Regions from separate parts of the Homo sapiens genome. Here regions 1, 3 and 4 are each linked to region 2. Evidence: fine-mapped expression QTL. A gene starts in region 2. Each other region holds a variant in brackets. All regions are shown on one strand. Distances are from middle to middle.

What was found.
Region 1: its variant is fine-mapped to the expression of MAPKAPK3 in whole blood (INTERVAL, PIP above 0.99).
Region 3: its variant is fine-mapped to the expression of MAPKAPK3 in whole blood (INTERVAL, PIP 0.97).
Region 4: its variant is fine-mapped to the expression of MAPKAPK3 in whole blood (TOPMed, PIP above 0.99).

Annotation. Positions count from the first base shown.
Region 1 is chr3:50,787,126-50,795,234 of GRCh38, forward strand. All of the region lies in intron 2 of DOCK3 (dedicator of cytokinesis 3), which reads left to right. It also overlaps the pseudogene ZNF652P1. Among named protein-coding and RNA genes, the nearest start is that of MIR4787, 120 kb to the left of the region's middle. RefSeq lists an enhancer at 3,534-4,280. The variant A/AT (reference allele first, on the strand shown) is at 4,997.
Region 2 is chr3:50,613,390-50,621,498 of GRCh38, forward strand. MAPKAPK3 (MAPK activated protein kinase 3) reads left to right here and starts at 3,762. Exons shown (of 11, transcript NM_001243925.2): 1 at 3,762-3,852; 2 at 4,125-4,395. The coding sequence starts at 4,177. RefSeq lists enhancers at 2,525-2,614, 3,482-4,435, 4,436-5,388 and silencers at 3,706-3,755, 3,766-3,815, 4,066-4,215.
Region 3 is chr3:50,871,475-50,879,583 of GRCh38, forward strand. The region is part of intron 3 of DOCK3 (dedicator of cytokinesis 3); the gene reads left to right. It also overlaps the pseudogene ST13P14. Among named protein-coding and RNA genes, the nearest start is that of MIR4787, 200 kb to the left of the region's middle. RefSeq lists an enhancer at 2,191-2,420. The variant A/T (reference allele first, on the strand shown) is at 4,534.
Region 4 is chr3:51,054,539-51,062,647 of GRCh38, forward strand. The region is part of intron 5 of DOCK3 (dedicator of cytokinesis 3); the gene reads left to right. Among named protein-coding and RNA genes, the nearest start is that of MANF, 330 kb to the right of the region's middle. The variant G/A (reference allele first, on the strand shown) is at 3,233.

The sequences.
Region 1 (8,109 bases), 170 kb after region 2:
TTTTTTCACAGTCTGTTTGCCGGTGAAGATATAGCTCACTTTCCAGGACAAACTTATTGCCACATTTATCACAAATCTGCATGTGCCTATGAGTAATATTCATTTGCTTCTCCAGACACCAGTGAGCATTAAATACCCTGGGGCACACGCCTGTAATCCCAGCACTTTGGGAGGCTGAGGCGGGCTGATCACCTGAGGTCAGGAGTTCGAGACCAGCCTGATCAACATGTAGAAACCCCGTCTCTATTAAAAATACAAAATTAGCTGGGCGTGGTGATGCATGCCTGTAATCCCAGCTACTCGGGAGGCTGAGGCAGGAGAATCGCTTGAACCCGGGAGATGGAGGTTGTGGTGAGCCGAGATCGCGCCATTGCACTCCAGCCTGGGCAACAAGAGTAAAACTGTCTCAAAAACAAAAAACAACCCTGGGTCACTTCTCACAGGTCACACTTAGCTTTCTGCACTGGTGCTTCAGGCTCCTTTGTTTCCCGCTTCTTACGCTTAGGTGGCTCTGCACTCTTCCTGCAACCTCTTGTAGTTCTGGGAGTAGGGGAAGTGGTAGCTGCAGCAACAGAGGCAGCTCTCCTCATTCTTCTTTCTGTAACGCTGACTTTCTCTGTTATCTTCTCCTTTTTCTTCTGCTTATCATTCTCTCCATAGTCATTGCTGTTATCTGTGGCCCCTTCCTCTCTCTCTTCCTCCTCATTGTTTAAGAACAGGAGTCTCTTTGGATTGAGAAGAGGTACCCTTTTCCCCTTTAGGTACATTTAATGTTTGATTATTAAGGTTTACCTCCACTATGATCTGCTCCCTTTTGTAAAAGACTTCTTCCTCTTCTTCCTCCTCCTCTTCTGTGTCATCAGAATTCTCCTGGTCTTCCTTAATAGCATGCACATCAGACTCTGCTCCTGTCTCCCTGAAATGTGGCTGTTCTTCTGTTTCATGGAGATGTAGTTTGCTCATCTTGGTGTCCACAAACACAGAATAAGGACTTCCTGGTTCCCTTTGTTACACTTTGGTGGACAGGTCAAGTTCCTTGTGGCACCATGATGAAAGCTGGATGGCACTTGCCCATGACGGCTATCATCTTGTGCCATTCCTGCTACAGGCACAGCACAGTTTTCAACCAGCTCCTGACGAGAAGTGGCTGTGTGCCTCATTGGTAAATGACTCAATTTATTAAGCAGTTCAGACTGTAAAGAAAATAGCTTTAAAACAAGGTAATTATTAAGACTAAAATATTTTTCCATCCCTAAGAATCACTCAAATGAAAAAAAGATATTCCTGGAAACTGAATTCTTCCAGTGTTGCAGCACCAAAGCATAAGTCAAAAAGGTTTGGTATTATGGCAAGAGCAGACCACTAGTGATTTTTCTTCTGAAGAGAACTACAAGGGACTTGGTGCATCTTATCTGGGCCAGCCACCTCCACCGCCTAGATCAATGCCTTGGCAGTCCTTCCCTGCAGTGGGGGGACTGTAGCCAGAGTCACAACCTCCAGCCAGGCTGGCCCCTCACTCCTGCCCAATGTCTGTCCTCAGGACTGCTCCTCAGACCTGGCCTCGGCTGCTGGCCACAGTGCTATGTGGCCACCACTCCCATGTCTCTGGACTTCCTTCTGAGTGCCTGAGGGCAAGGAGGGTGGCAGGGTGGGCAGAGCGCAGGGAGGGAGGCAGGGGAGGGGGGTGGGTGTGTGGATGTACGTGCAGGGAGGGAGGCGAGTGGCTGCGAGGGCGCGTGCCCGCCCCGTCCCCTTCCTTTGTTGGCCACCCCCCTTTATTATCTTTTCAAAGAACGAGGTTTTTGTTTCATTTATCTTTTGTATTGTTTCTTTTTTGTTTGTTTGTTTCCATTTCATTTAGTTCTGCTCTGATCTTTGTTATTTCTTTTCTTCTGCTGGGTTTGGGTTTAGTTTGTTTTTGTTTCTCTAGTTCCTTGAGGTGTGACCTTAGACTGTCTTCTTTTTTCTCTTTTAGACTTTTTGATATAGGTGTTTAATGCTAAGAACTTTTCTCTTAGCACCTCTTGCTGCATCCCAGAGGTTTTGATAGATTGTGTCACTATTATGCAGTTCAAATAACTTTTAATTTCCATCTTGATTTCATTGTTGACCCAATGATCATTCAGCAGCAGGTTAGTTTCCATGTATTTTCATGGTTTTGAGGGTTCCTTTTGGAGTTAATTTCCAATTTTATTCCACTGTGATCTGAGAGAGTACTTGATGTAATTTTGGTTTTCTTAAATTTATAGAGAGTTGTTTTGTGGCCTGTAATATGATCTATCTTGGAGAATGTTCCATGTACTGATGATTAGAATGTATATTCTGCAGTTGTTGGGTAGAATGTTCTGTAAATATCTGTTAAGTCCATTTGTTCTAGGGTATAGTTTAAGTCCATTGTTTACTTGTGGTCTTTCTGTCTTGATAACCTGTCCAGTGCTGTCAGTGGATTATTGAAGTCCGCCACCATTATTGTGTTGCCATCCATCACATTTCTTAGGTCTAGTAGTAACTGTTTTATAAATTTGGGAGCTCCAGTGTTAGGTGCATATATATCTAGGATTCTGATATTTTCCTGTTGGACTAGTTTTTAAATCTTTTTTGTTTGTTTGTTTGTTTTTAAGACAGTCTCTCTGTCTGTCATCCAGGTTGGAATGCAGTGGTGTGATCTTGGTGTCATCAGTGGTGTGACCTGTGCCTTCTGGGTTCAAGCGATTCTTGTGTCTCAGCCTCCTGAGTAGCTGGGACTGATAGTCATGCACTAGCATGCCTGGCTAATTTTTGTATTTTTAGTAGAGATGGGGTTTCGCCATATTGGCCAGACCGGTCTGGAACTCTTGGCCACAAGTATCTGCCCACCTCGGCTTCCCAAACTGTTGAGATTACAGGCATGAGCCACCATGCGTGGCCTAGTCCTTTCATCATTGTATAATATCCCTCTTTGTGTTTTTTTAACTGCTTTTGCTTTAAAGTTTGTTTCATCTGATGTAAGAATAGCTCCTCCTGCTTGCTTTGGGTGTTCATTTGCATGGAATATCTTTTTCCACCTTTTTACCTTAAGTTTATATGAGTCCTTATATGTTAGGTGAGTCTCTTGAAGACAACAGATGCATGGTTTGTGAATTCTTATCTGTTCTGCCATTCTGTATCTTTTAAGTGGAGCATTTAGGCCATACATTCAGTGTTAGTATTGAGACGTGAGGTACTATTCTGTTCATCATTGTGGTTGTTGCCTGAATACCTTGTTTGTTTTTTTCTCATTTGCTATTGTTTTACAGGTCCTGTGAGATTTATCCTTTAAGGAGGTTCTATTTTGGTGTATTTTGAGGTTTTTGTTTCAATATTTAGAGCTTTTTTTTTTTTTTTAGCAGTTATTTTAGTGCTGGCTTGGTAGTGGCAGATTCTTTCAGCATTTGTTTGTCTGAAAAAGACTATCTTTCCTTCATTTACGAAGCTTAGTTTTGCTAGATACAAAATTCATGACTGATAATTGTTTTGTTTAAGGAGACTAAAGATAGGACCTCAATCCCTTCAAGTTTATAGGGTTTCTGCTGAGAAATCTGCTTTTAATCTGATAAATTTTCCTTTATAGGTTACTTGATGCTTTTGCCTCACAGCTCTTAAGATTCTTTCCTTCGTCTTGACTTTAGATAACCTGATGACTGTGTGCCTGGGCGATGATCTTCCATTCTGACTGGTGTGAGATGGTATCTCATTGTGATTTTGATTTGCATTTTTCTAGTGATCAATGATACTTTTTTTCATATGCTTCTTGGCCACATGAATGTCTTTTTTTGAGAAGCATCTGTTCATGTCCTTTGCCCACTTTTTAATGTTTTTTTTTGTTGTTGTTATAAATTTGTTTAAGTTCCTTGTAGACGATATTAGACCTTTGTCAGATGGATAGATTGCAAAATTTTTCTCCCATTCTGTAGGTTGTTTACTCTGTTGATAGTTTCTTTTGTTATGCAGAAGCTCCTAAGTTTAATAAGATCCCATTTGTCAATGTTTGCCTTTGTTGTGATTGCTTTTGGTGCCTTTGTCATGAAATCTTTGCCTGTTCCTATGTTCCGAATGGTATTGGCCTAGGTGATCTATTACAGTTTTGGGGTTTACATTTAAGTGTTAAATCTATCTTTTTTTTTTTTTTTTTTTTTTTGAGACGGAGTCTTGCTCTGTCGCCCAGGATTGAGTGCAGTGGTGCCATCTCGGCTCACTGCAACCTCTGCCTCCCGGGTTCAAGTGATTCTCCTGCCTCAGCCTCCCAAGTAGCAGGGACTACAGGTGCACGCTACCATGTCTGGCTAATTTTTGTATTTTTAGTTTCACCATGTTGAAATGGGGTTTTACCATGTTGGCCAGGTTGGTCTGGAACTCCTGACCTCAGGTGATCCACCCGCCTCGGCCTCCCAAAGTGCTGGAATTATAGGTGTGAGCCACTGCACTTGGCCAAATGTTTAATCTGTCTTGAGTTGATTTTTGTGCATGGTGTAAGGAAGGGGTCCAGTTTCAATCTTCTGCATATGGTTAGCCAGTTATCCCAGCACCATTTATTGAATAGGGAGTCTTCTTCAATGCTTGTTTTTGTCAGGTTTGTTGAAGATCAGATGGTAGTAAGTGTGTGGCCTTGTTTCTGGGTGCTCTGTTGTTTTCCATTGGTCTCTGTGTTTGTTTTTTGTACTAGTACCATGTTGTTTTAGTTTCTGTGGCCCTGTGGTATAGTTTGAAGTTGGGTAGCATGATGCCTCCAGCTTTGTTCTTTTTGCTTAGGATTGCCTTGGCTATTCGGGATATTTTTTTATTCCTTGGCCATTCGGGATTTTTTTTTGTTCCATGTGAATTTTAAAATAGATTTTTCTAGTTCTGTGAAGAATGTCATTGTAGTTTGATAGGAATAGCATTGAATCTGTAAATTGCTTTGGGCAGTATGACCATTTTAATGATATGGATTCTTCTCTGTTAGCATGAAATATTTTTCCATTTGTTTGTGTCATCTCTG[A/AT]TTTTTTTTTTTTTTGAGCAATGTTTTGTAGTTCTTTTTGTAGACGTCTTTCACTTCTCTGGTTAGCTATATTTCTAGGTATTTCATTCTTTTTATGGCAGTGAATGAGATTCTGTTCCGATTTGGCTCTCAAGTTGGCTGTTGTTGGTGTATAGGAACTCTAGTGATTTTTGCACGTAGATTTTGTATTCTGAGACTTTGCTGAAGTTGTTTTTCAGCTTAAGGAGCTTTGGGGCTGACACTGTGGGGTTTTGTAGGTATAGGACATGTCATCTACAAATGGGTAGTTTGACTTCCTCTCTTCCTATTTGGATGCTGTTTATTTCTTTTTCTTGCCTAATTGTTCTGGAAAGGACTTCCAATACTATGTTGACTAGGAGTGGTGAGAGAGAGCACCTCTGTCTTGTGCCGGTTTTCAAGGGGAATGCTTCCAGCTTTATAGATTGGTTATGACGTTGGCTGTGGGTTTGTCATAGATATCTGTTACTATTTCACCAAGCTTATTGAGAGTTTTTAACATAAATGGTGTTGAATTTTACCAAAAGCCTTTTCTGCATCTGTTGAGATGATCATGTGGTTTTTGTTTCTAGCTCTGTTTATGTGATGAATCACGTTTATTGATTTGCATACGTTAGAGCAATCTTGCATTCCAGGGATAAATTGGTCATAGTGGATAAGCTTTTTGATGTGCTGCTGGATTTGGTTTGCGAATATTTCATTGAGGATTTTTGCACTGATGTTCATTGAGGATATTGGCCTGTTCTCTGCCAGGTTTTGATATCAGGATGATGCTGGCCTCATAGAATGAGTCAAGGAGAAGTCCCTCCTCCTTAGTTTTTTAGAATTGTTTCAGTAAGAATGGTACCAGCTCTTCTTTGTACATCTGTTAGAATTTGGCTGTGAATTTGTCTGGTCCTTGGCCTCTTTTGGTTGGTTGGAAGTTTATTAAAATTTAGTTTCAGAGCTCATTATTGGTCTGTTCACATATTCAGTTTCTTCCTGGTTCAGTCTTGGGAGGGGGTATGTGTCCAGGAATGTAAACGTTTCTTCCAGATTTTTTGGTTTATATGTATAGAGGTGTTCATAATAGTCTCTGATGGTTATTTGAATTTTTTTGGGGTCAGTGGTAATATCCCCTTTGCTGTTTCTAATTGTGTTTATTTGGATATTCACTTTTTTCTTCTTTATTAGTCTAGCTAGCCATCTATCTGTTTTATTAATTTTCTTTTTCTTTTTCTTTTTTTTTTTTTTTTTGAGGCAGAGTTTTGCTCTTGTTGCCCAGGCTGGAGTGTAGTGGCATGATTTCAGCTCACTGCAACCTCTACGTCCTGGCTTCAAGTGATTCTCCTGCCTCAGCCTCCCGTAGGTGGGATTACAGGCATGTGCCACCACACCCAGCTAATTTTTGTATTTTTTAGTAGAGACGGGATTTCGCCTTGTTGGTCAGGCTGGTCTCGAACTCCTGATCTCACGTGATCCACCTGCCTCAGCCTCCCAAAGTGCTGGGATTACAGGCGTGAGCCACCTTGCCTGGCCTATTTTATTAATTTTCTTTTCAAAAATTCAACCCCTGCCTTCAATGATCTTTTGAATGGTTTTTCATGTTTTCCTCTCCTTCTGTGCAACCTCTGATTTAGGTTATTTCTTGTCTTCTACTAGCTTTGGGCTTGATTTACTCTTAGCTCCCTAATTCTTTTAGTTGTGATGTTAGATTGAGACAGATCTTTCTTTTTGGTGTAGGCATTTAGTGCTATATATTTTCCTTTTAACACTGCCTTAGCTGTGTCCCAGAGATTTTGGGTATATTATATTTTTGTTCTCATTAGTTTCAAAGAACTTGTTGATTTTTGCCTTGATTTCATTATTTACCCAGAAGTCATTTGGGAGCAGTTTATTTAACTTATGTGTAATCGTAAGGTTTTGAGTGAATTTCCTGGTGTTGATTTTTAATTTGATTGTGCTGTGGTCTGACAGAGTGGTTGTTATGATTTCACTTCTTTTGCATTTGCTGAGGAGTGTTTTGTGTCCGAGTATGTGGTCAATTTTAGAATGTGTGTGATGTGGCAATGAGAAGAATGTATGTTTTGTTGCTTTTGGGTGGAGAGTTCTGTAAATTTCTATCAGATCCATTTGATCCAGTGCTGAGTTCAAGTACTGAATACCTTTGTTAATTTCTGCCTTGATGATCTATTGAATACTGTCAGTGGCATGTTGAAGTTTCCCACTATTGTTGTGTGGGAGTCTGTGTCTCTTTGTAGGTCTCTAAGAACTTGCTTTATGAATCTGGGTGCTCCTGTGTTAGGTGCATATATATTTAGGATAGTTAAGTCTTCTCGTTGAATTGAATCCTTTACCATTATGTAATGCCCTAATTTGTCTTTTTTGATCTTCGTTGGTTTAAAGTCTGTTTTGTCTGAAATTAGGATTGCAACCCCTGCTTTTTTCTATTTTGTCTTGCTTGGTAGATTTTTCTCCATCCCTTTATTTCAAGTCTGTGGGTGTTTGCATGTGACATGGATCTCTCGAAGACAGCATATTAATGGGTCTTGGTTCTTTGTCTAGCTTGCTACTCTGCACCTTTTAATTGGGGCATTTATCCTGTTTACATTCAGGGTTATTATTGATATGTGTAGATTTGATCTTGTCATCATGGTGTTAGCTAGTTAATATGGAGACATGTTTGTGTGGTTGCTTTATAGTGTTACTGGTCTGTGTGCTTAAGTTTGTGTTTGTGGTGGCTGGTAGTGGTCTTTCCTTTCCATATTTAGTGCTTCCTTCAGGAGCTCTTTTAAGGCGGGTCTGAGGGTAACGAATTTCCTCAGTGTTTGATTGTCTGAAAAGGATCTTATTTCTTGTTGGCTTGTGAAGCTCAGTTTGGCCAGCTATGAATTCTGGGTTTGAATCTCTCTTTTTTTTTTAAAGAATATGGAATATTGGCCCCCAATCTCTTCTGGCTTGGGTTTCTCCTGAGAGGTCCACTGTTAGTCTGATGGGTTTGCCTTTGTAGGTTACCTGATCTTTCATTCTAGCTACCTTTAACATTTTTTCTTTCATTTTGACTTTGGAGAATCTGATGATTATATATCTTGGAGATGATCTTCTTGTGAAGTATG
Region 2 (8,109 bases):
GGCTTCATGAGTGCAACTCTGCCAGCCCCCTCCTGAGTTGGCCAGAAGCCACTTTCTTGGAATGGGGGTAGGGGGGATGGATACCTTATAACCCACTTTGAGGGCTGGGATACCTGGATAGCCTGATATGCGGCCCCTGTGTGGACCACTGACTTGCCAGTAGGAACTGTCCACTGTCTCATTACTATGAAGACAAAAGGACTTTGCCGCTGCCAGGCAACAGAGTTACAATTTTGAACTTGGGTCTCTTATGGGGCCAAATCCCAAGCTCTCTACCAAAACTATACTTCTTCCCCCTCACCATGACTATTCAACTGAACACTTACTATGTGTCAAGCACTCTCAGCAATTTGCAGCCTCATGTCATTGTCACAACTACCACATATTATCTCCTCTTTACAGGTGAGAAAACTGAGGCATGGAGAGGTTACAATATAACTTAGATCTCCCAGCTGGCAAGTAATGGTTTAAGCCAGGAGCCTACACACTTCCTCCTACTTCCTCTATGGGTGCTGGTGATCTGCCGACTCCTAGACATCCAGCTTTAAGGTCCTCAGTGAAGCTTCTCTGCCCCCAGGCCTGTCCATGTCAGAGCACCATGGGTGTCCCTTTGAAAGTATCTCCTACAGGTCAGTGATTATGCAGTCTATGTGTAAACCAAAGGGTTCCAAGGGTTTTGGCCTTCCAACTATTTTTGTGTGTGTGTGAATATGACAGCACTGTGCACCTCACCTGCATGCTGGGAACAGTGATGTGCCCCTGTTCTGCCCCAAGTACTAAGTTGGGTCCCTCTGGCCAACTTAGTACTTAATTCTCCTGCCCTGGCTGCTCCCTAGAAACCCTGGCTCTGATTGCTGGGCCCACACTGCCACCTAGCGGTGCCCCCTCTCATGCCCTCACTAGCCAAATTTCCATAGATTCTTCTCTTCTAGGATAATCCCTCTCCTGCACCCCAGGGATTGAACTTACTGCAAGATTCCCCTGCCACTCCCTACCCAGAACAATCACAAGATGAATCACAAGAATACACAGCAGTGCCTTCCCAAAAGTCTCGCTCATTTGGCCTCCATCCTCTCACCATGTACAGCCTCCCCTCTCCAGTAAGGACAGAGTGTGTGTGTGTGTGTGTGTGTGTGTGTGTGTGTGTGTGTGTAGGATTTAGCCCCCCTCACTTTAAGCTATTCCAAAGTCTCTGTCCCCTTGGACACACAGCTACATGAAGGGCTGTGTGGCAGAGTCTGCCATCATGAACCCACTCCTGACCAGACCTAGCCATCCTGCATGCCAAATCCTCCCATCATTGTGGAGGGGATGCTGCAGGTGGTTGCTGGAACATGAGCACTAAGGGAAACCACATATTCTGACTTTCCTGGGCTAAGTGAGTAGTTTCAAGGCATCTCTCCGATGGACCCATGTGGGGAATGCGTGTGCCTGTGGAAGCATGGACACTGGTTATAGGGACTGGGAGGGGAGAAGCAGCACCTTTGCCTTACTTTTCATACTTCTGTATAATTTGAATTAATTACAATGAGGAAGTTTTACTTATGCAACTTAAAATTTTAATAAAAGAGACCAGCTTAAAAAATACAATTATAAAATTTGTAGAGCAATTATAATCTAATTCCATTTTAAAGAAAGAAGACATCTTCACAGAACATTCAGTGGGATGCCTTTGGCTGGGGCAAGGAGCCAGCCTCCACCCTCAGCTGCCTAGCCTTCTGCTCACCAGAATGACATCTTGCTCAGCCTCAGGTTCACCAGGCTCAAACTAGTTGCCTTCAGAGAGCAGAGAGCCTTCTTTGGCTCCCCCCAGCAGTAGAAGATTCCAGATCATAGGGCTTTCAAAGAGGCTCTGAGATCTTGAATCAGATTCTCAGGTTGGGCTCAGGGACATCAATCCTGGGTCCAGCTGGGCATAAATGCATGTGTGTGTGCACATGTGCATGTGTATCTGTGTGCATGTGTGTTATATGCATGTGTGTTTATACGTGTTATATGCATGTGTGTGCACATGTGTAAAGGTGTGACTGCATGTGTACATGTGTGAGAGTATGTTTGCACATGTGGCTGTGTGAGGAGCCAGAAAGGACTAGGAGAGGAGGCCATGGTTTGAGGATAAGAGCCCAGCCCTGAGGTTGTGCTTTGGAGTTGGAATGGGGGCTCTGTCATGACAGCTGCTGACCTCAGACAGGTCACTTAACCTCTCTGGGCTTTTCTGTCCTGTGTGTCTGTAGTGTGGGGCAGAAGGGATAGTGTGACCTCCTCTAGGCTCTGTAAGGTCAGGGGGTTGCAGGGAGAGCACATTCCCAGCATCTGGTCTGCAAGAAGTGTTCACTATGGCCAGCTGAGGCTATTGTCTGGAGCCTCCTGCTTCACTGAACACTGCTAGCTTGAAGGTTGCCTGAAAGAAATAGGGGCAGAGCCCCAACCCCATCTCCACTCAACATCTGCACACAGTGGGTACCCACTAATAAGTTGTAGCACCCTTTCAGTCACTCATTCACTCATTCATTGACAGAAGATCATCTTTCCAAGAGCTACTTCTCTGATGAGCCTGCACATGCAGCCCAGGGGTCCGTGAGTGTGCGTGTGTTAACCAGAGGGGCTGAGGGGGAGGCGCTCACTGGGCCTAAATTCCGGAGCCAAGAGTAGGATGGCTGGAAGACGCCTCTGAGTGGAACCGAGGTCCTGGTACCTGCAGTCCTGTAGATGGCCTGTAGATGACAGCAGAGGCCCATGCAGAGCCCCTGCGCTGAGCCGCACCTTCCCAGTTCCAAGTGAGCCAGCTCGCTCAGGTCCCTCAGCTTCCGGATTGGGGGAGTGATGTGATGTGCGCAAGTAGTTCAGATCTGTCCCAGAAGACAGCCACAGCCACCCTCCCTATGGCTCTAGACAAGTTGTTTTCTCCCCAGGGGTCCCAGTTTCCTCATCTGTGAAATGAGAGTTGCTTAACAGCCGGTGTTGGGAAAACTGGCTCAAAATACGTAAGGTAGTCTAAGATGGGCTTAACAGAGACTTATATGTGCAAGGCAAAACTAGAAAGCTAATGGAGAATATCTGTCACTCGGATGGGAGACAGAGACTTTTTAAACACGACGCCAAAAGCCCAAACCATAAGGTGAAATGTTGGCGGATCTGATCAAATGGCAACTCGGGATTTCTGGTCCCCAGGATGCTGTATATACCAAAGGGAAGCAGCGAGTCAAGGGCATAAGCGGGAGCTGCAAAAAGGGGGCAGTCGCCAGTGCTGGAGACTCCCAGAGCCACCAGAGACTAAAGAGTGGCGAATTCAACAACGACAAGATGCCACCTCCCTCGGCATGTTTAAAAAGTTGAGTACGCTGAGGGTTGGCCAACACTAGGCAAGTCGGAAGCCTAGCAAGCCATACTGGAGGGCCACCTGGCAGCGTGCAGAGCAAACACCCGACTCAAGGAGAGCTTTCAAGAGAAATAAGACGTCCTGCGCTGTCACGTTCTAGGTTGCGAGTAAAACCCGGGACCCGCACAGTAGCGGACTGCCAGTACAGGGGCCTCCCTGGGTGTCCCTGGAAACCGAGGAAGTAACCGCCCCCTCGGGAAGCCACGCCTCCTATTTTGTTCCGGCTCGGGGGCGGGACCCAGCCGGGGCCCGCCTGGCCCTTTAAGGCTGACCTAGCGGGGCCCCAAGTTGGGATGACGCGCAGGGAGCGGGGGGTGGAGTGGGGGAGTGGGGGAGGGGGGGGTGGGGAGGGGGGGGAGGTCACGTGGGCGCCGGCAGCGCGACTCTCGGCCCTGGGATTTCTGCGGCCGCCAGCTCCCGCGACCGCCTCTCCTGCCCCTCGCCGGTACCTCAGCAAGGTGCGTTGCCGCCAGGTACGCCCTCGCTGGGCCCCCTCTGCGGCCTCCTCCGGGGACCTCGCGGCCATTAGGCGCCCGGCCCCTTCCCTTCTTGACACGTGCCCGGGCGGTGCTCGCTTGTACCCCGCCGCGCGACCACCGCCCCTTGCTGCACGTCTGTACTCTCAGGCCGTTCGTCCCGCACTCCCAGCTTGCCCCGGGCTCGCAGCCCAGCCCAGTTCAGAGGCTCCAAGGCTGGGGTGTGTTGGAAAAGTCTGGGCGGGACTCACTCTTCCCCTTTCCCCCAGGTGCCACTAGAAGCGCCAGGCTGGGGCCGCCTCTGAGCGCCCCGCGGGGGCCATGGATGGTGAAACAGCAGAGGAGCAGGGGGGCCCTGTGCCCCCGCCAGTTGCACCCGGCGGACCCGGCTTGGGCGGTGCTCCGGGGGGGCGGCGGGAGCCCAAGAAGTACGCAGTGACCGACGACTACCAGTTGTCCAAGCAGGTGCTGGGCCTGGGTGTGAACGGCAAAGTGCTGGAGTGCTTCCATCGGCGCACTGGACAGAAGTGTGCCCTGAAGGTCAGTGAGCCCTCACTGAGGCCTGGGGTATCCTGGAGGGTCCACAGCGGAAGCCTGTGAGTGAAGCTATGTCTAGCGCCCCTGCTAAGCTTCCTATGCTCAGCAACATGTTTCATCGTCATACTGTCCTGTAAGGTCAGGCTTGTGGTCCTCCCTACTTCACAGATGGGGAAACTGAGGCGTAGCCTAGCTAAGCTTTGAGTGTCCCAGTGAGCAAGGGGTGGAGTCACTATGGCTAGAGATGCTGTATCCGGAAGCAGGGAAGGGGTGACTCCTGACTCTGGGATTCTGGCTGGACCCATGTGTTCAGGCCCAAAGGGGATCTCTTGTTCAGCTTGGCTGCCCCTTCCATGTGAAGCTCCTCTGACTGGAATGGATCTGTTTCCCTTTGCTGGAAGCTGAGACCCCACCAAGGCTTGGGTGGGACTGCTTCTTCCCTGTGGCCCCTGCCTGTCTGGGCTGGAGTGGTGTGAGCCTCCCAGGGCTGGCCAGAGGACAAGGCTGATGCCCACTGCACCTGTGGAGCCTCAGGAGGCTGCTGATAGACTCCTGACGAGTCGCTGGTCCCGTGTTGAAAGGGACAGGCCCTGGGCCAACCCACCCCTGGTTCCTGGGCAGAGGGCGGGCCAGCCATCTAGCCACCTCAGACTATAGGCTCCCTGGAGACCTGGCATGCTGATATAGGTGGCATGGTGGGGGTCAGGGGGATGCTGGGGGCGGGTACCTGGTTCCAGCTTAAGGCATACAGTTCTGGGCCTAGGGCCACACCCCATACCCAGAATCCCTTGAATCTGTCATCTCTGGGGTCTTTACTCATTTGTAGCTTGTGCCAATGGATGGGTAGAGCATGGCAGGGATAGTGGCTCCTGGAGGCTAGAAGTACAGCAAAGGCCCTTCTCATTTTACAAAAGATTTTTTTTTTTTGAGGCAGAGTCTCACTCTGTCGCCAGGCTGGAGTGCAGTGGCACAATCTCAGCTCACTGCAACCTCCACCTCCCAGGTTCAAGCGATTTTACTGCCTCAGCCTCCTGAGTAGCTGGGACTACAGGCGTGCGCCACCACGCCCAGCTAATTTTTTGTATTTTTAGTAGAGACAGGGTTTCACCATGTTGGCCAGGATGGTCTCGATCTCTTGACCTCGTGATCTGCCTGCCTTGGCCTCCCAAAGTGCTGGGATTACAGGCGTGAGCCACCGTGCCCGGCCTTTACACAAGTTTTAATTATGAGTCCAAGTGCAGAGTCCTCTAGATATGGCTAATAGCTATCCTGTGTTTGCCAGTTTCATGACCTTGGATGATATCCTAGACTCTGGAAGCCAGGTTTCTGCATCTATTCATGGGGAAAGATAAGGAGTTGTTGTGAACATGAAATGAGATTATACATTTAAAGCACTTGGTACAGGACCTGATACAGGTCTGGAGAGGTTACAGGACTTATTTAAGGCACAAGGTCTTAAAGCATCTGAGCAGGGAGCTGGACCCAGCTCTCTGTGTCTTTCCCAGGACCACTAGGGCCAACAGAGGAGGTTGTCTCCCCGGAGTACCTTGGAGGGGAACATGCGGGTGGGTCTAGGAGAGGATCAGGGTTGGGCTGGTGGGGCTGGGCCCCAGGTATAGCTTCTTTGCCCACTAACCCAGCAGTCGAATGGGGTCGGGGAGCTTTTCAGAGTATCAGGAATGGGATTCTCTGAGTCTTTTAGGGAAAAAGTGGCTCTTCTGAGGGCAGACGGGGGTAAGAGGATGAGGAATGAGAGTTTTCATCCCCCTCTGGGCACTATTTAACCTTCCACCTGTGCTAGGATTGAGGGCAGGCTGGGTGGGTGAGGGATTGAGGCCAGAGACCCACTTCTTAATACCAAGGCTTTGACCCTGTGGGCCAAGACTGAGCTCTGACCAGCCCCTGTGGTGTCCAGATGCTGTGGGTGAGTCAGGGATGGGGTGGGAGACCAGAATTTGTAGGCCCACACAGTGCCAGCTTTAAGTAAGACTGGACTTAACCCCTTCCCCATAGATGCTATGTCTGATGAGTGACTTGGGGTAACTTCTGACTGCAAGAACTTCCACAGCACCTCATCAGTGCTCTCCTTGTTCTGGACTGGGAATTGGGTCAGGCCTGGAGTGGATTTCCCTCTGTACCCCTTTATGGGTGAGCATGGCTAAGGCTACTAGCTTGGGACCTTCAGGATCTGGCCCTAAATTGGCCCTCAAAGGGGACATGGATTAGATGTGGCTCCCACTCCAGGACCTTCCTGTTCTTAGTATCACTAGTGACCAAGCCTAGAAGTCCTTACCCAGCTAAGCAGGCATTTACTATCTCCCAATATTGGGCTAAGCACAACCTCTGGTACAGTTATTTTACCTGTCTTGTGAGTGGTAGCTGTGGCCACGAGGAGGAAGGTGACATCTCCCCACTTATAGCTTCTGCCCATTGCCCAGGAAGACCAGGACCTGGGGACCTCAGTACATGGGCAGGCCTGGGCCCAGGGAGCTTAGCCAGCTCATGATGGATCACAGTCCTCTCCTTGCATCTGCCTAGCCCTCTCCCCGCAGTTGCCCCAGCTCAGCCTAGGCAACAGTCGTGGGCTCTGTGTCTTTCTGCCTCCCTGGTGATGTACTCCAGGTTAACCAGGGTGGCCTGTCCTCATCTTATAACTTGACCTTGTTCAGGCCATCTCTGCCCATTTGTCTCATGCTCATCCTCTTGGCTCTGTTGCCCAAGATGGAAGATAGTGCTTAACAGGAAGCCTGAAACTCAGCAAACACTCATAAAACAGGAAGAGCTGTGGCCACTGTCCTTGTAACTGTTGCTATTCTGTGGAGGCCCTAGAGGAGCAGGTCCCTCCCTCCCAGGGAGCTGGGCCTCTTCCGCTTTCCCTTAGCCCCTGACCACCTGCTTGGTTCATCTTGGCCTCAGTCATACTCAGTGGCTCCCTCCCAAGGCTACCTTCTGCTGCCAGTGCAGCCATTCTACTCCATTGTACCCCAAGCCCTCATTGCTGTCCTCTTGGCAGGAACTGGAGGACTGCCTTTCTTGGAGAGGGTGTATGGGCCAGGCGGTCCTCCAGTGTCTGCTTCTCCTGCTGACCTCTTGCTTGTGCCCTCTCCCAGGCTTAACTAGTTAATTAGTACCTTCAGCTTTCCCTCTAACTGGGCACAGCCCTGCAGATTTGTCACACATCAGTTACCCCACCACATCCAAGATCCAGTCCTTCAAACTTTATCACATACATGAAAATTGGGACCCAAAGTGAGTCACACGGTTTGAAGTGGGGGGTGTAGCAGAGGCCCGAATTTTCTCCCCTCCTGACATCCTGCCCAGCCCTCTTGTGGTTTTTGGCCTCTTGGCAGGCAGAAGTGACCATGGCACTTAGTATCTCTAAATAAAAGCAATAGGCTGGGTGCGGTGGCTTGTGCCTGTAATCCCAGCACTTTGGGAGGCTGAGGCAGGAGGATCATTTGAGTCCAGGAGTTTAAGACCAGTCTTGGCAACATGGTAAGACCCTTATCTCTACACAAAATTTAAAAATTAGGGCTGGGTATGATGACTTATGCCTGTAATTCCAGCACTTTGGCTGAGGCGGGAGGATCACTTGAAGTCTGGAGCTCGAGACCAACCTGGCCAACCTGGCAAAACCTTGTCTCTACTAAAAATAAAAATACAAAAATTTGCTGGACACAGTGGCGGGCGCCTGTAATCCCAGCTACTGGGGAGACT
Region 3 (8,109 bases), 260 kb after region 2:
GATTATTAAATGTCTTGAGGTAGTCCTCTGTGGGTTAAATTTTCTTGGTGTTCTGTAACCTTCTTGAACTTGGATATTGATGTCTCTCGCTATGTTTGGAGGGTTCTCTGTTATTATTTCTTTTAGTGAAGTTCTGAACCCTATTTCTTTCTCTACCTCCTCTTTAATGCCAACTCTCAGATTTGCTCTTTTGAGGCTATTTTCTAAAACCTGTCATCTTGCTTGTTTTTTATTCTTTTAACTTTTGTCTCCTTTGTGTATTTTCAAATAGCCTGTCTTAAAGCTCACTAATTCTTTCTTGTGCTTGATTCATTCTGCACAATGAGTCATTCTTGATTCAACAGACTCTGGTGCATTATTCAGTACATCAGTTGCATTTTTCAACTCCAGAATTTTGGCTTGATTATTTTAAATTATTTCGATCTCTTTGCTAAATTTACCTGATAGAATTCTGGATTTCTTTTCTGTGTTATCTTGAATTTCTTTGAGTTTACTAAAAACAGCTATTTTGAGTTCTCTGTCTGAAAGATCATATATCTCTGTTTCTCTAGATTTGGTTCCTGGTGCCTTATTTAGTTTATTTGGTAAGGCCATATTTTCCTGGATATGGTCTTGATACTTGTAGAGTTTTGTCTGTGGTAGGCATTGAAGAGTTAGTTATTTAAGGTAGTCTTTGAGTTAGTTATTTGTTGAGCTTGTTTGTCTTTCTTAGGAAGGCCTTCCAGATATTCAGAGGGACTTGGATGTTGTGATTTAAGCTGTGTCTGCTTTAGGGGGGACCCCAAGTCTAGTTAATGCTGTGGTTTTTTCAGACTTGTAGAGGGACCACCTTGATGGTCTTGGACAATATCTGGAAGAATTCTCTGTATTACCAGACAGAGACTCTTGTTCTCTTCTCTTACTTTCTGCCAAACAAGCAGTCTCTCTCTCTGTTTCGAGTCACCTGAAGCTGGAGTTTGAGTGACACAAGCACCTCTGTGGTCACCACCACTAGGACTGTGCTGGGTCAGACCTGAAGCCAGGTCTCACTGGGTCTCACCCAAGGCCTGTTGTAACCACTCCCGGGCTACCATATATGTCTGTTCAAGGCCCTGGAGCTCTAGAATGAGCAGCTGGCAAAGCCAGTCAGGTCTGTGTCCTTCCCTTCAGGGTACTGAGTTTCCCCAGTTCCTGGGTGAGTTTAGAGGTGATATCTAGGAGCCAGGGACTAGAGTCAAAAACCTTAGAAGTCTACCTTATGTTCTCTTGTACCATAGCTGAGCTGGCACCAAAACCACAAGACACCATCCTTCCCCTTCTTTCCTCCCCTTTCCGAAGGCAGAGGAGCCTCATCCTGTGGCTCCTGCCATCACAGGCCCACGGGGCCTACTGCCAGACTACCACCAATATTTTAAGGCCAAGAGCTCTTCAGTCAGCTTGTGGTGACTCTTTCCTGGCCTGGGAATCACCTTCATGGCAGTGGGCTCCTCCCTGGTCCAGGACAGGTCCAGAAATGCAGTCCAAGAGCCAAGTCCTGGAATCAGGGACCCAAGAGCCTGCTTTGTTCTGTACCCACCCATGACCACGCTGGTTCCTAAGGTGCAAGAGAAAGCCTTGTTTCCTTTTCCCCTCCACTTGTCTCAGGCAGAAGGCTTGCCCGGTAGCCAACACAGCTGGAAATGTGCTGAGTTTCCCCCGAAGCCAGCAAGTCTCAGATTCTCACCCAAGACCCTTGATGTAATACCTGGGTATCACTCCTGGTTATTCAGGGCCCCAGGGGCTCTTTAGGTAGCAGATGATGAATTTTGCTAGGATTTTGCCCTTCCCTTCAAGGCAGCAGGTTCCCTTCTGGGCCAGGGTATGTCTAGAAATGTCATCTGGGAGCTAGGGCCTGGAAAGGGGACCTCATGACCTCACGACTCTGAGCAGTGCCTTATCCTGCTGTGACTGAGCTGGTATCCAAGATGCCAGACAAAGTCTTCTTCACTGTTTCCTCTCCTCTCCTCACACAGAAGGAAGGGGTCTGTTGGAGCTGCAAGCTGTACAGCCTGGGGTTAAGGGAGAGGTGATGCCAGCACTTTCTTAGCTACCCTAGCTGTTATCTCATTAGATTGTGTGTTCCCTAATCCACTGGCTCAGGGCCTGGTTCACCACTGGGACTCACCTAGGAGTTACAGTCCTTGTGGCCTAAACTGCCTTTTAAATTTATTTAGAGCCCCAGAGCCTTTAGCCTGAGGTGGTGAGACTTTCAGGAACTCAAGTTCCAATCACTGAGATCAGCTATTCTCCTCTGCCTAGGGCTGGTTTAAATGCTTTCTTCATGGGCACACATCAGCCAAATTTATTCTGGTTTTTATTTCTGCTCTAATGGAACAGCTTTGAGTTCAGTGCCTCCCAATTTCCGCGCTGTTTCTCCCCCAGCATACAGAATTGTTTTCTGCACTATGCAGTAGCTGCTATGGGTTGGGGGAAGGGTGATGTCTGTGATTCAAAACTGTTTTTTCTACTTCTTCATTTTCTCTTTCAGTAATGTAAAGTTAAAATCGGATGCTGTAAGTACTTGCCTGAGTTTTGGTTTTCATGAAGGTGTTTTTTTTTTTTTCTTTTCTTTTGTTTTTTTTTTTTTTGTTAAATTGTTGTACTCTTAGTGGGGTGATCAGTGGAGCTTTCTATTTCAGCATCTTGCTCCATCTTTTTCTCCTGTCATTGGTATTTTGATAGGAATTGCATTAAATGTATAGATTGCTTTGGGAAGTATAGATATTTTGCTGAATGTGATAGGTCACACCTGTAATCTCAGCACTTTGGGAGGCTGAGGTGGGAGGGTCACTAGAGCCCAGAAGTTCGAGACCAGCCTAAGCAAGATGGCAAGACCGTATGTCTGCAAAAAATTAAAAGAAAAAATTAGCTGGGCATGGTGGGTGTATTTGTAGTCCCAGCTACCTGGGAGGCTGAAGCAGGAGGATCCCTTGAGCCTAGGAGTTTAAGGCTGCAGTGAGCTAATTGTTCTACTGCACTCCAGCCTGGTGATGAAATGGGACCCTGTATCTTAGAAATAAATAAAGAAAAAAAAAAACAAAAAAAGTATAGGCATTTTAACAATATTAATTATTCCAATCCATGAATCTGGCATACCTTTCCATTTATTTTGTGTCCTTTTCAGTTTCTTTCATTAGTGTTTTGTAGTTTTTCTTGTAGAGATATTCCACTTATTTGGTTAAATTTATTCCTAAGTATTTTATTTTATTTTTGGTAGCTATTGTAAATCAGATTGCCTTTTTGATTTTTCACTGGTAGTATATGTAAATGCTACTGATTTTTGTATGTTGAGGTTGTATGCTGCAACTTTACTGAATACGTTTTTCAGTTCTAAGCTTTTTTGTGGTGGAGTCTTTAGGTTTCTCTAAATATAAGATCATTGTGGCCATAAAAAAGAATGAGTTCATGGGCTTTGCAGGCACACGGATGAAGCTGGAAGCCATCATTCTTAGCAAACTAACACAGAAACAGAAAACCAAACACCACACGTTCTCACTCATAAGTGGGAGTTGAACAATGAGAACACATGGACACAGGGAGGGGAACGTCACACACCGGAGTTGTGGGGGAGGGGTGGGAGAGCATTAAGACAAATACCTAAAGCATGCGGGGCTTCAAACCTAGATGACGAGTTGATAGGTGCAGCAAACCACCATGGCACATGTATGCCTATGTAACAAACCTGCACGTTCTGCACATGTATCCCAGAACTTAAAGTAAAATTAAAAAAAAAATTATGTTGTCTGCAAACAAGGATAATTTGGCTTTTAAAATTCCAGTTTGGGTACCCTTTCACTTGTTTCTCTTGCCTGTTTGTGCTGGCTAAGACTTGTAGTACTATGTTAAATAAAAGTGGTGGAAGTCTTATCTTTGTCTTGTTTGAGATCTCTTTGGAAAGACTTTCAATTTTTCCCTGTTCCTTCAGTATGATATTAGCTATGGGTTTGTTATATGTGGCCATTATTGTGTTCAGGTAAATTCCTTCCATACCCAGTTTGTTTAGAGGTTTTATCATGAAGGAATTTTGAACTTTATCAAATGCTTTTTCAGCACCCATTGAAATGATGATATGGGTTTTGTCTCTGATTTTGTTGATGTGATATATCATGTTTATTGATTTTCACATGTTCAACCATCCTTGATTCCCTGGGATGAATCCCACTTGATCACGATGAATGATGTTTTTGATATGTTGTTGAATTTGAGTATTTAATATTTTGTAGAAGATTTTTGCATTTATATTCATCAGGATTATCGGCCTATAGTTTTCTTGTTTGTTGTGTCCCTGTCTGATTTTGGTATCAGAGCAGTGCTTGCCTCATAGAATGAAGTTGCAATCATCTCTTCCTCTTTAATTTTTGAATTAAAAAAAAAAAAACAACTGTTGTGTTTTGAGAGTCTTCGCCTGTTCGCTGTTGAGATAATATGAAACATTTTCATGATATATTGAACAAGAACAGAGCTGAATAATCCAGCTCTACTGGAGCATTAAAAAAAATTCTTTACCATCGTGTA[A/T]GGTTTAAATGCAACTGACAAGAGGGTGCATGCTATGTAAAACATAATAAGATTACTGCTGCTATACCAAGTATTTCCAGTCTGTTTCTGAGAAACAGAACCTGTTCCTCAGGTTCTGTTGAAATACTGGAATATCAATATTTTTATCAGAATTATTCATGTTAAAAAACCATTTAAAAAGAGAAATCAAAATTCCTCAGTAGTCATGTATTCAACTCAAGCTTTATCTACTTAAATTAGTTTTATTTGCCTCCCATTTGTAAACCTGTGTTTCACTAAAACCAGAGCAATAAATCTTCCATACTTAAGTATCTTTCTTGCCTAATAAAGGAAAAATACAAAATGATTATTAAAGAAAAATATATGAACTAACAAATCCTTTTGTTTTAAATATTTTAAGGTTTAAAATATTTAGTATTTTATTCAGTATAAATATTTAGTGAATAAATATTTAGTATTTTATTATAGTTTGTAATTTCTAGCAGGAACACATGATTTGAATGAATATCCTAATGGCAAACCACAGTAAAATATTCAGCTGCATTTGGGGAAGAGGGGTAGAGATGATCTTGAAAGCCTTCTAGTTGTCTTGATCAGAGGTACACCGGTTTGTATTATTGTAACATTTATTAGGTGATCTAGTTTGCTTTTCCTTCACCTAGGGCCTTTTACTTGTCCAAAGGACATTTTCCTTCACTTTAAAAATTTGGCTGACAATTTACTGATGAGATTCATAATTTTTTTGGTTACTCTGGTGTTTTGACATATTTGCTGTGTTCTGGGCCACATCCTAGAAGATCACTGTAACTTCTGTTTCCTGCATGGCTGCAAGAACCTCTAGGTCAAGCTTGTCCAACTCATGGGCCATATGCAGCCCAGAACAGTTTTGAATGTGGCCCAACACAAATTTGTAAATTTTCTTAAAACATTATGAGATTTTTTGCAATTTTTTTAAAAAGCCCATCAGCTCTCGTTAGTGTTACTGTATTTTATGTGTGGCCCAAGACAATTCTTCTTTGAGTGTGGTCCAGGGAAGCCAAAAGATTGAACACTCCTGCTCTAAATCACTAAGAATTTCATTGCATCCAGGCATTTCTGCCATTCTAGGCATTGCTCCAGGAAAATTACCAGGCATTCCCCCTGGGAAAGCCACCTGGAAAAGAGCCATACTGAGCTCCTGAATGTCATCTGGCTTCTTTCTCCCTCTGAGCTCTCTCATGATCTTACGGAGCCTTCTTAACCCTTTTTATTCTTTCTTTGATTTCTTACTCTTGATATTTCTATTCAACCTTTTTCTAATGTTGTGCAATTTTCTTGGCCCTCAGTTGAACTTCTTTCAGCATTGTACTAGTATCTTCATCATAATCCAGTTATGGTCAGGGTCAAGATTATAGCTGCTTCTTTCCAATGGCCCAGAAATCTGTGTGCTTTCCCTCACCACTTATAAGGCTGAGCCAAATCAGAATTTATTTCATTTGTTCTGTCAGTCTCGAATGGCAGTGTTTGGCTTCTGTAATGTGATGAAGATACTGACTGTGTTGACATACAGAATGGTCAAGCGAGGATTCAGCTTGATGGCATCTCTGAACAAGACAGTGGCTTTCTGTAGTGCACCATTATCTAGGGCTTCAATGGCAGCCACTTTTTCTTTTCTTTTCTTTTCTTTTCTTTTCTTTTTCTTTTTTATGTTGGAGTCTCGCTGTGTCACCAGGCTGGAGTGCAGTGGCGTGATCTCAGCTCACTGCAACCTCCGCCTCCTGGGTTCAAGCAATTCTCCTGCCTCAGCCTCCTGAGTAGCTGGGATTACAGGCCTGCACCACCACGCCTGGCTAACTGGGAGTAACCTAACTGGGAGACATCTCCCAATAGAGGCTGACTGACACCAAATACAGCCAGGTGCCCCTCTGAGACGAAGCTTCCAGAGGAAGGATCAGGCAGCAACATTTGCCGTTCTGCAATATTTGCTGTTCTGCAGCCTCCGCTGGTGATACCCAGGCAAACAGTGTCTGGAGTGGACCTCCAGCAAACTCCAACAGACCTGCAGCTGAAGGTCCTGACTGTTAGAAGGAAAACTAACAAACAGAAAGGACATCCACACCAAAACCCCATCTGTACGTCACCATCATCAAAGATCAAAGGTAGATAAAACCACCAAGATGGGGAGAAACCAGAGCAGAAAAGCTGAAAATTCTAAAAATCAGAGCGTCTCTTCTCCTCCAGAGGAATGCAGCTCCTCGCCAGCAATGAAACAAAGCTGGAAGGAGAATGACTTTGATGAGTTGAGAGAAGAAGGCTTCGGACGATTGGTAATAACAAACTTCTCCGAGCTAAAGGAGGATATTTGAACCCATTGCAAAGAAGCTAAAAACCTTGAAAAAAGATTAGATGGGTGGCTAACTAGAATAAACAGTGTAGAGAAGACCTTAAATGACCTGATGGAGCTGAAAACCATGGCACGAGAACGATGTGACGCATGCACAAGCTTCAGTAGCTGATTTGATCAAGTGGAAGAAAGGGTATCAGTGATTGAAGATCAAATTAATGAAATGAAGCAAGAAGAGAAGTTTAGAGAAAAAAGTAAAGAGAAACGAACAAAGCCTCCAAGAAATATGGCACTATGTGAAAAGACCAAATCTGTGTCTGATTGGTGTACCTGAAAGTGACAGGGAGAATGAAACCAAGTTGGAAAACACTCTGCAGGATATTAACCAGGAGAATATCCCCAAGCTAGCAAGGCAGGCCAACATTCAAATTCAGGAAATACAGAGAACACCACAAATATACTCCTCGAGAAGAGCAACTCCATGACACATAATTGTCAGATTCATCAAAGTTGAAATGAAGGAAAAAATATTAAGGGCAGCCAGAGAGAAAAGTCGGGTTACCCACAAAGGGAAGCCCATCAGACTAACAGCAGATCTCTCGGCAGAAACTCTACAAGCCAGAAGAGAGTGGGGGCCAATATTCAACATTCTTAAAGAAAAGAATTTTCAACCCAGAATTTCATATCCAGCCAAACTAAGCTTCATAAGTGAAGGAGAAATAAAATCCTTTACAGACAAGCAAATGCTGAGAGATTTTGTCACCACCAGGCCTGCCTTACAAGAGCTCCTGAAGGAAGCACTAAACATGGAAAGGAACAAATGGTACTAGCCACTGCAAAAACATGCCAAATTGTAAAGACCATCGATGCTAGGAAGAAACTGCATCAATTAACGAGCAAAATAACCAGCTAACATCATAATGACAGGATCAAATTCACACCTAACAATATTCACTTTAAATGTAAATGGGCTAACTGCTCCAATTGAAAGACACAGACTGGCAAATTGCATAAAGAGTCAAGACCCATCAGTGTGCTATATTCAGGAGACCCATCTCAGGTGCAGAGACACACATAGGCTCAAAATAAAGGGATGGAGGAAGATTTACCAAGCAAATGGAAAACAAAAAAAAGGAAGGGGTTGCAATCCTAGTCTCTGATAAAACAGACTTTAAACCAACAAAGATCAAAAGAGACAAAGAAGGGCATTACATAATGGTAAAGGGATCAATTCAACAAGAAGAGCTGACCAG
Region 4 (8,109 bases), 440 kb after region 2:
TTTTTGATATTTCCCTCCTCTTTGTTTTCACAGTTCTGTCTTCCTAGAACCCTTTGATTAGAGTTGGACATCTTCAAATGATGCACTAATTTTCTTACATTTTGTCTCCCATTTATCTATTGGATTGCATTACCTTTTCATTCTGCTTTCAGGCAGGATTCCTCAATTTTGTGTTCCATTATTTTACTGTTTTTTAATATTAAATTACGACTAGCCTGCTTTTAACTTCCAAAAGCCCTTTTGGGTTTTGGGGGTTATGCCCCTTTATTATGCCCTATTCTTCTTTGGATGGATGTGCTATAATTTCTGTGGTCTTGTAAAATATTAATTATTTTTTCTTTGAAATTTTCTTTTATTCTTGTCATTGTGTCTGTTTCCTCCAATATCTATTTTTCTGATTGCTTTGGTCTCTTTCCTTCATGTTGGAAGCTTTCCTTATTATATGGTGTTCTTTGTCCATTCATATTTAAGAATGAGGCATTAAAATGTTGACAGAAAGCTCTGTGAATTGGGCTAGTATTTATCAATTAGTGAACATTACTTTAGAGGGATTAGAAGAGGGCCTGGCTTTTGATGGAAAAAGTAGAGCAGCTGTCAATATTTCTGGATCTTTTCCCCTGGGCTGAGTTTTCCTAAAGAGGAATCTTCTCCATTCTTCATATGCAGGTATCAGCCTGGTTGTTAACATCTGGGGAGCTCGATGTGGAAAGCACACTGGGAAAGGGTTGGGGGTAAAGGGGGATAATACTTCTAGGCTTCAGAGATTTCTGGTACCTCCAGTCTCAGAGCCTTTCTGCAGAGGCTTGCATCTTACTGATTTCTTCCCTGTTTCCCACCCTCCTCACTTGTCTTCCTCCACCTTACTCTTAGGGCTTTTTTAGTTTTCTATTCTTTGACAAGTCATCTACTTTCCAGCTTTCACCTTTAATGTTTGGTGGAGTGGATAGTTGTGCATGGGAAGGATTGAGGCTGGCTTTTTATTAGTCTCCCTAAGAAGAGATGCCTATGGACACATCGAGGACTGACTTTAAGTAGAGATTTGATCTGTCCTGTGTAGTAGGAGTGACTGTGAGCCTGAGAACGCCTCAGCTGTTTACTGCCCACTGTTAGGTAAGTCTGCCTTGTTCAGAATTGTGAATGGATGCCCTTCACTTGGCATCTATCCATCCGTGAATGGATGACTTCAGCAACTACAGCCTCCATTGTCATATCTCTAATATTTTTTCTACCTTTCTACCTTTGGTGTTGTTCCTTTCTTATGAAGATCTGCTCTGTGGAATAGAAAGATTTTTACAAATCTTAGCTCTCCTGCAAATATATGTGTTGTAAGAGAGGATTAGAGCTATAATGCTATTTGTTATTTGGAATATCAACTCTATAATGGAGGATGTATTTGGGCTGGGGATAGACTGAGGATGATATCATGGCCCTTGAGATGTGGAGGAGTTAGATGTATGTGCCAAGGAAATACATATTGTATGGATACTTCCTCATATTAATGAAGAGAAAAAGAATTTTCATATCGCTTCTTTGCATTTTCATTTGTTGTAAATATGTGCTTGAAAATCAGTGTGAATTAGCTTTGGTTTAGATACTGTTTTGTTTCACAAAAATTTCTATCTTTTGTACTCAGTTGCTGACTATGTTGTTCGGCAAACTAAAATGAAAGTTTAGATTCCTGGGTTTAAAGGTATTTTATTATTATTATTTTTATTTTATTTATTTTTTGAGACGGAGTCTCGCTCTGTTCCCCAGGCTGGAATGCAGTGGCACAATCTCGGCTCACTGCAAGCTCTGCCTTCCAGGTTCACACCATTCTCCTGCCTCTGCCTCCCGAGTAACTGGGACTACAGGTGCCCGCCACCATGGCTGGCTAATTTTTTGTATTTTTAGTAGAGACGAGGTTTCACAGTGTTAGCCAGGATGGTCTCGATGTCCTGACCTCGTGATCCACCCACCTCAGCTTCCCAAAGTGCTGGGATTACAGGCGTGAGCCACTGTGCCTGGCCATTTAAAGGTATTTTTGACATAAAGGTCATTAGGGTTCCAAGTACTGTAGTCTAGAAATCTTTTCATTATATTGGGATGAGTTTTGGAATATAAGAAAACATCTAGAATAGGATTAGAGGTTACTTCATGAGAAGAGACTTGAAGATTAGTAGTAATGAAAAAAGAATGCTGTTTTGGGAGTTTTGAATAAACTCAAGTTCTTAATGGTTAATTTGTTAAAAAGAAAGTGAGAAAAAACCCATCTACTTATGTATAAAGGAATATTCAAAAAGAAAATGTAAAATAGGGGAGATCTGGTAATCTTCCCACAACAACATTGGAAGGAAACAATGTTTATCTTCCATTAAATTGATTTTGATGTAAAGTTTTTAGTACTAGTGGCAGGACATTATTCTCTTTGAGGATAGCAAAATTTCTGATGTCATTTTTATTTAATTAGATTTTTATGATGCTGTGTTTATATTAATTGGTCCGTAAGCATATGTAGTTTTAAAATAAAGGTAATATACTTTCTGGCAAATGCCCTACAACTTTGCTCATTTACTGACTTAGAGGCATCACTGTGGCACAACGTTTCTTTCCATACTGGGTTAAAAATAATTTAGCAAAAATTATCTTTAAAACAGGAGCACTAAAACATATTCTTTTTTTCTGCAGAGCTCCAGGGATTGTTTCACAACAGTGAGGCAAATTGTACTTGGCATGCGTTTGTAAAGTAGTTTAATCATTCTAAATTTATGGTTTCTGCTGACTCTTCAGTGTACTTTCCAAATAATCTGTGACTGATCTTGACAAATATTAGTCTGTAGGGTTTTTGCAGAGGCTGGATGTGTTGCTAAGATGAGCTATACAGATTTCTTCTGCCCAATCTCCTCCTCATTGAATTTTCCTTTTATTTTAGCAGTGACAGGAAATAGGGATGATTGTGCCAGAAAACAAAACCTGTAGTGCCAACCTAATTATACTGTTACTTTAATCCACTGAGGAGCAGGTCTCTAAGTAGAAAAGGATTGTTTTTCCTGAGTGAGGTATTCAGCTGTTTTGTGGCATCAGATCATTCTAGGTGAATGTATGCTCTGGTGCTAGTCACCCAGATTGCTCACCTTGAGTGGTATATACTGTCTTATGCTAACAAGCCCAAGAACACAGTGCGGTGTCGGAGCAATGTTGGTGGAGCCTCTACTGCTAGGGTCTCTGGTCAGAGAGGTCATTAGGTTGGCCC[G/A]GAAAAAGAAATTAACACCACATTGGTTATAATAACAGTGCTGCTTTACTTAATCCATTTCCTTCTTTGTGCATCTTTACACAGTTGGTGTAGGATAAGTAATTTCATTTTCATGTATTTGGAAACAACTGATTTTCTATTGAAAAAAATTGTGTAATTGTTTCAGTTACCTACATAACAAACCATCCAAAGCTTAGTGGCTTAAAATAACTATATTTTTCATTCTTTTCTGGATATAGTGAACTCAGTTGGGCATTTTTCATTTAGGGTTTCTCATTTTGTTGCAGTTGAGTATTGGTAGGGGCTGTAGTCCTTTGAAGGCTCAGCTGGGCTAGGTATCCAAGATTGCTCACTCACACCATTGAAACTCCTTACTTATGGCCTCAGCTCCCAAGAACATGCATTCCAAAATGCAGGAAGCAGAAGCAGCCAGACTAGTTAAAGGCTGAGAACTGGCCTAGCTCACTGCTGCCATATCTGTTGGTCAGAGCATATTCAGGGCCTGCCCAGATTCAAAACTGTGGGAAAATAGATTCCATGTCATGCTGGAAGGGTATCAAAGTCACATTATTGCAAAAGACCACTTGTCATGGGAGATATTGTAGTTATCTTTGGAAAATGCAATCTGTGAAACTCTTGATTAAAAAAAACCATGTACAATGCCTTAAAAGACTACATTTGTATATTCTTGCATAGATAGTGTGTGTTTGTGCGTGTGGCATAGATATTGTATATGTGTATTGTGCATTTATGTATGTATTACATGTGTATGTGTGTATATATGTACATGTATATGCATTAATATACACATACATAATACGTATATGCCATCTTAGTTTGTTGGGCTGCTATAACAAAATTTTCTAAGTTGAGCAGTTTATAAACAACAGAAGTTTATTTATCACATTTCTGGAGGCTGAGAAGTCCAGGATCAAGATTGGCAGAATCAGTGTCTGGTGGGGGTCCACTTCCTCATAGTTTGCACCTTCTTGCTATGGCTTCACATGGGAGAAGGGATGAAAGAACCTCCCCTTTGGGCCTATTTTTTTTAAGGTAATAAATACAAATATTTAATTAAATATTAATAGGAAATTTGGCTGTGGGTGTATACATATATGTATAAAATAATTACATATATATGTATGTATGTATAAAATCATTTTAACTTTTATTTTAGATCTGGGGGTACATGTGTAGGTTTGTTACATGGGTATGTTGCATGATTCTGACATTTGAGATGTGAATAATCCCCTCACACGGGTAGTGAACATAGTACCTAACAGGTAAGTTTCAACCCTTGTACTTCACCCTGTCTTCACCCTCTAATAGTCCCCAGTGTCTATTGTTGTTGTTTTTATATTCATGAGTACCCAGTGTTTAGCTCCCACTTGTAAATGAGAACATACGGTGTTTGTTTTTCTGTTTCTGCATTAATTTTCTTAGGATAATGGCCTTGGGCCTATTTTATAAGGGCACTAATCCCATTCACGAGGGCTTGGCCCTTATAACCTAATTATCTCCCAAACAGTTTCACCTCCTAATACCATTGCCTTGAGGGTTAGGATTTCAATGTATGAATTTATTGAGGGGGAAATGCAGACATTTGGACCATAGCACACATGTACATTAATACACATGATGCCTCAGTATCAGTATACTTCATTAGACTTTGCTAGAAAAAAAACCACACACACACACACACACACACACACACACACACACACCCCACATCCCACATTACTTTTAATTAGTTTTCACAGATCTCAGAACTACCTAGCAATGGAACTAACTTTCTGGTCAATTCAAGTTACCACTCCGTAAGAGACTGTTTTATATCGTTTGCTCTATTCTCAAATCTCAAATACCCCTTCCCACTCTATTCACTCCCAGCTGATGATATTGCTTTTTATTTCTCTGAGAATAAAGCAGTCAGAGGAAAATTTTAGTTCTCTTATTACCAGATCTACCAGCTACCTGTATCATTACCCATATTCTGTACCCTTCCTCTCTGTGAAGAATAGGTAGGTAACACAGAGTATCAAGCCTCCTACCTAAATCAAACCCTCCCCTTTTTTCCCCAGGATCCATCTGTTCATGTCTACTCAAGGATTTAACAGCTGCATCATCAAATTTTCTCCCTCTAATAGATTATTCTCTTCAAAATTTAGTTTGAAATTTTGTCAAATCTTTTAAAAACCCTTCCTTAACCACACAGTCACATTCTGCTACCCCATTTCTCTGCTTTTAGTTACTGCAGATTCTTCAGAAGAGTTGTCTGTGCTCTTTCTCCACTTCTTCCTCTCACAATCTCACTCAAACTCACTCCAACAATTCATTGAACCTGCACATTGTGCACATGTACCCTAAAACTTAAAGTATAATAATAATAAAATAAAATAAGACATCTATTGCATATAAAAAAAAAGAAACTGTTCCTGTAGAGGTCAGTGACAGCCACCACAATGCCAAATCCCCTGGCCAATTCTCAGTTCATATTTATTTAACCCCCCAGTGCCTTTGACAAAGTCCTCCTTAAAATCCAGTTTTCTAAAATTTTCTCCCATTCTGTAGGTTGCCTGTTCACTCTGATGGTAGTTTCTTTTGCTGTGCAAAAGCTCTTTAGTTTAATTAGATCCCATTTGTCAATTTTGGCTTCTGTTGCCATTGCTTTTGGTGTTTTATACGTGAAGTCCTTGCCCATGCCTGTGTCCTGAATGGTACTGCCTAGGCTTTCTTCTAGGGTTTTTATGGTTTTAGGTCAACACTTAAGTCTTTAATCCATCTTGAATTAATTTTTGTATAAGGTGTAAGGAAGGGATCCAGTTTCAGCTTTCTACATATTGCTAGCCAGTTTTCCCAGCACCATTTATTAAATAGGGAATCCTTTCCCCATTTCTTGTTTTTGTCAGGTTTGTCAAAGATCAGATGGTTGTAGATAAGCAGCATTATTTCTGAGGGCTCTGTTCTGTTCCATTGGTCTATATCTCTGTTTTGGTACCAGTACCATGCTGTTTTGGTTACTGTAGCCTTGTAGTATAGTTTGAAGTCAAGGGCTAATATCCAGAATCTACAGTGAACTCAAACAAATTTACAAGAAAAAAACAAACAACCCTATCAACAAGTGGGCAAAGGATATGAACAGACACTTCTCAAAAGAAGACATTTATGCAGCCAACAGACACATGAAAAAATGCTCTTCATCACTGGCCATCAGAGAAATGCAAATCAAAACCACAATGAGATACCATCTCACACCAGTTAGAATGGCGATCATTAAAAAGTCAGGAAACAACAGGTGCTGGAGAGGATGTGGAGAAATAGGAACACTTTTACACTGTTGGTGGCACTGTAAACTAGTTCAACCATTGTGGAAGTCAGTGTGGCGATTCCTCAGGGATCTAGAACTTGAAATACCATTTGACCCAGCCATCCCATTACTGTATATATACCCAAAGGATTATAAATCATGCTGCTATAAAGACACATACACACGTGTGTTTATTGCGGCACTATTCACAATAGCAAAGACTTGGAACCAACCCAAATGTCCAACAGTGATAGACTGGATTAAGAAAATGTGGCACATATACACCATTGAATACAATGCAGCCATAAAAAATGATGAGTTCATGTCCTTTGTAGGGACATGGATGAAGCTGGAAACCACCATTCTCAGCAAACTATTGCAAGGACAAAAAACCAAACACCGCATGTTCTCACTCATAGATGGGAATTGAACAATGAGAACACATCGACATAGGAAGGGGAACATCACACACCGGGGCCTGATGTGGGGTGGGGAGAGGGGGGAGGGATAGCATTTGGAGATATACCTAACATTAAATGACAAGTTACTGGGTACAGCACACCAACATGGCAGATGTATACATATGTAATTAACCTGCACGTTGTGAACATGTACCCTAAAACTTAAAGTATAATAAAAAAAAAAGCCATGAAAAGAAAAATCCAGTTTTCATTTGGCTTTCATGACACATACTCTCCTGCTTTTCCTCTCACCTCACTGCTTACTCCTTCTAGTTTCCTCTGCTAAATACTTCTCACTTTCCTAACCTCTGAATGTTGGAAATCAGTGTCAGACTTAGCATGTCCAAAATTAAACTTAGTTTCCTTCTTCCAGGCATGCTTTCCAGGCCACAAAACAAGAGTGATACTTTACTCTGTTCATAACCCACATCTAGTCCGTCAGCAAATTCTGGCACCTCTACCTACAAAACATGTCAAAACTTCAAGCCCTTCTTAACATCAGCATTCTTACCTTCATCCAAGCAGCTGTTATGCTGTGAACTGTTGCACTAAATAGCCTCCTGACTGGAATCCCTGCCTTCCTCTTTGCCTTTTTATGGTTTATCTTCAATAGAGCACTCAGAGTGATGCTTTCGAGACTTAAGTCATATCACATCACTCTTCTGCTCCAAATCTCCAGTAACTTCCCATCTTGCTTAGAATAAAAGCCAAAGCCTTAAGGTGGTTTACAAAATCTGTGTTTAACCTGGTGCCTGCTGCCTGTCTGCATCATCAATCTTCCCTTTCTCAAGACACACTGACCCTGTTTTTCCTGAACATGCCATGTTTACTTCCACCTCAAGGCCTTTGCACTTGTTTCTTATGCCTGAATAATGTCCCCAGTTTTCTTAAATGTTGCCACCTTACTTCATTCAGGTGTATTCTCAAAGTTCAGCTCCCAAAAAGTCTTTCCCTGACCACTCCACCTAAAGCAGTACCTTCCCCAGTGCCCCAGCCAGCCTACCCTTGGCCACTCTGATTTTTCTTTTTATAATTTATCACCATCATTAATGATTTGCCTATTGCCTGCTCTCTAGATCAAAAGTGCCATGAGAGCAGGGACTTTTGAT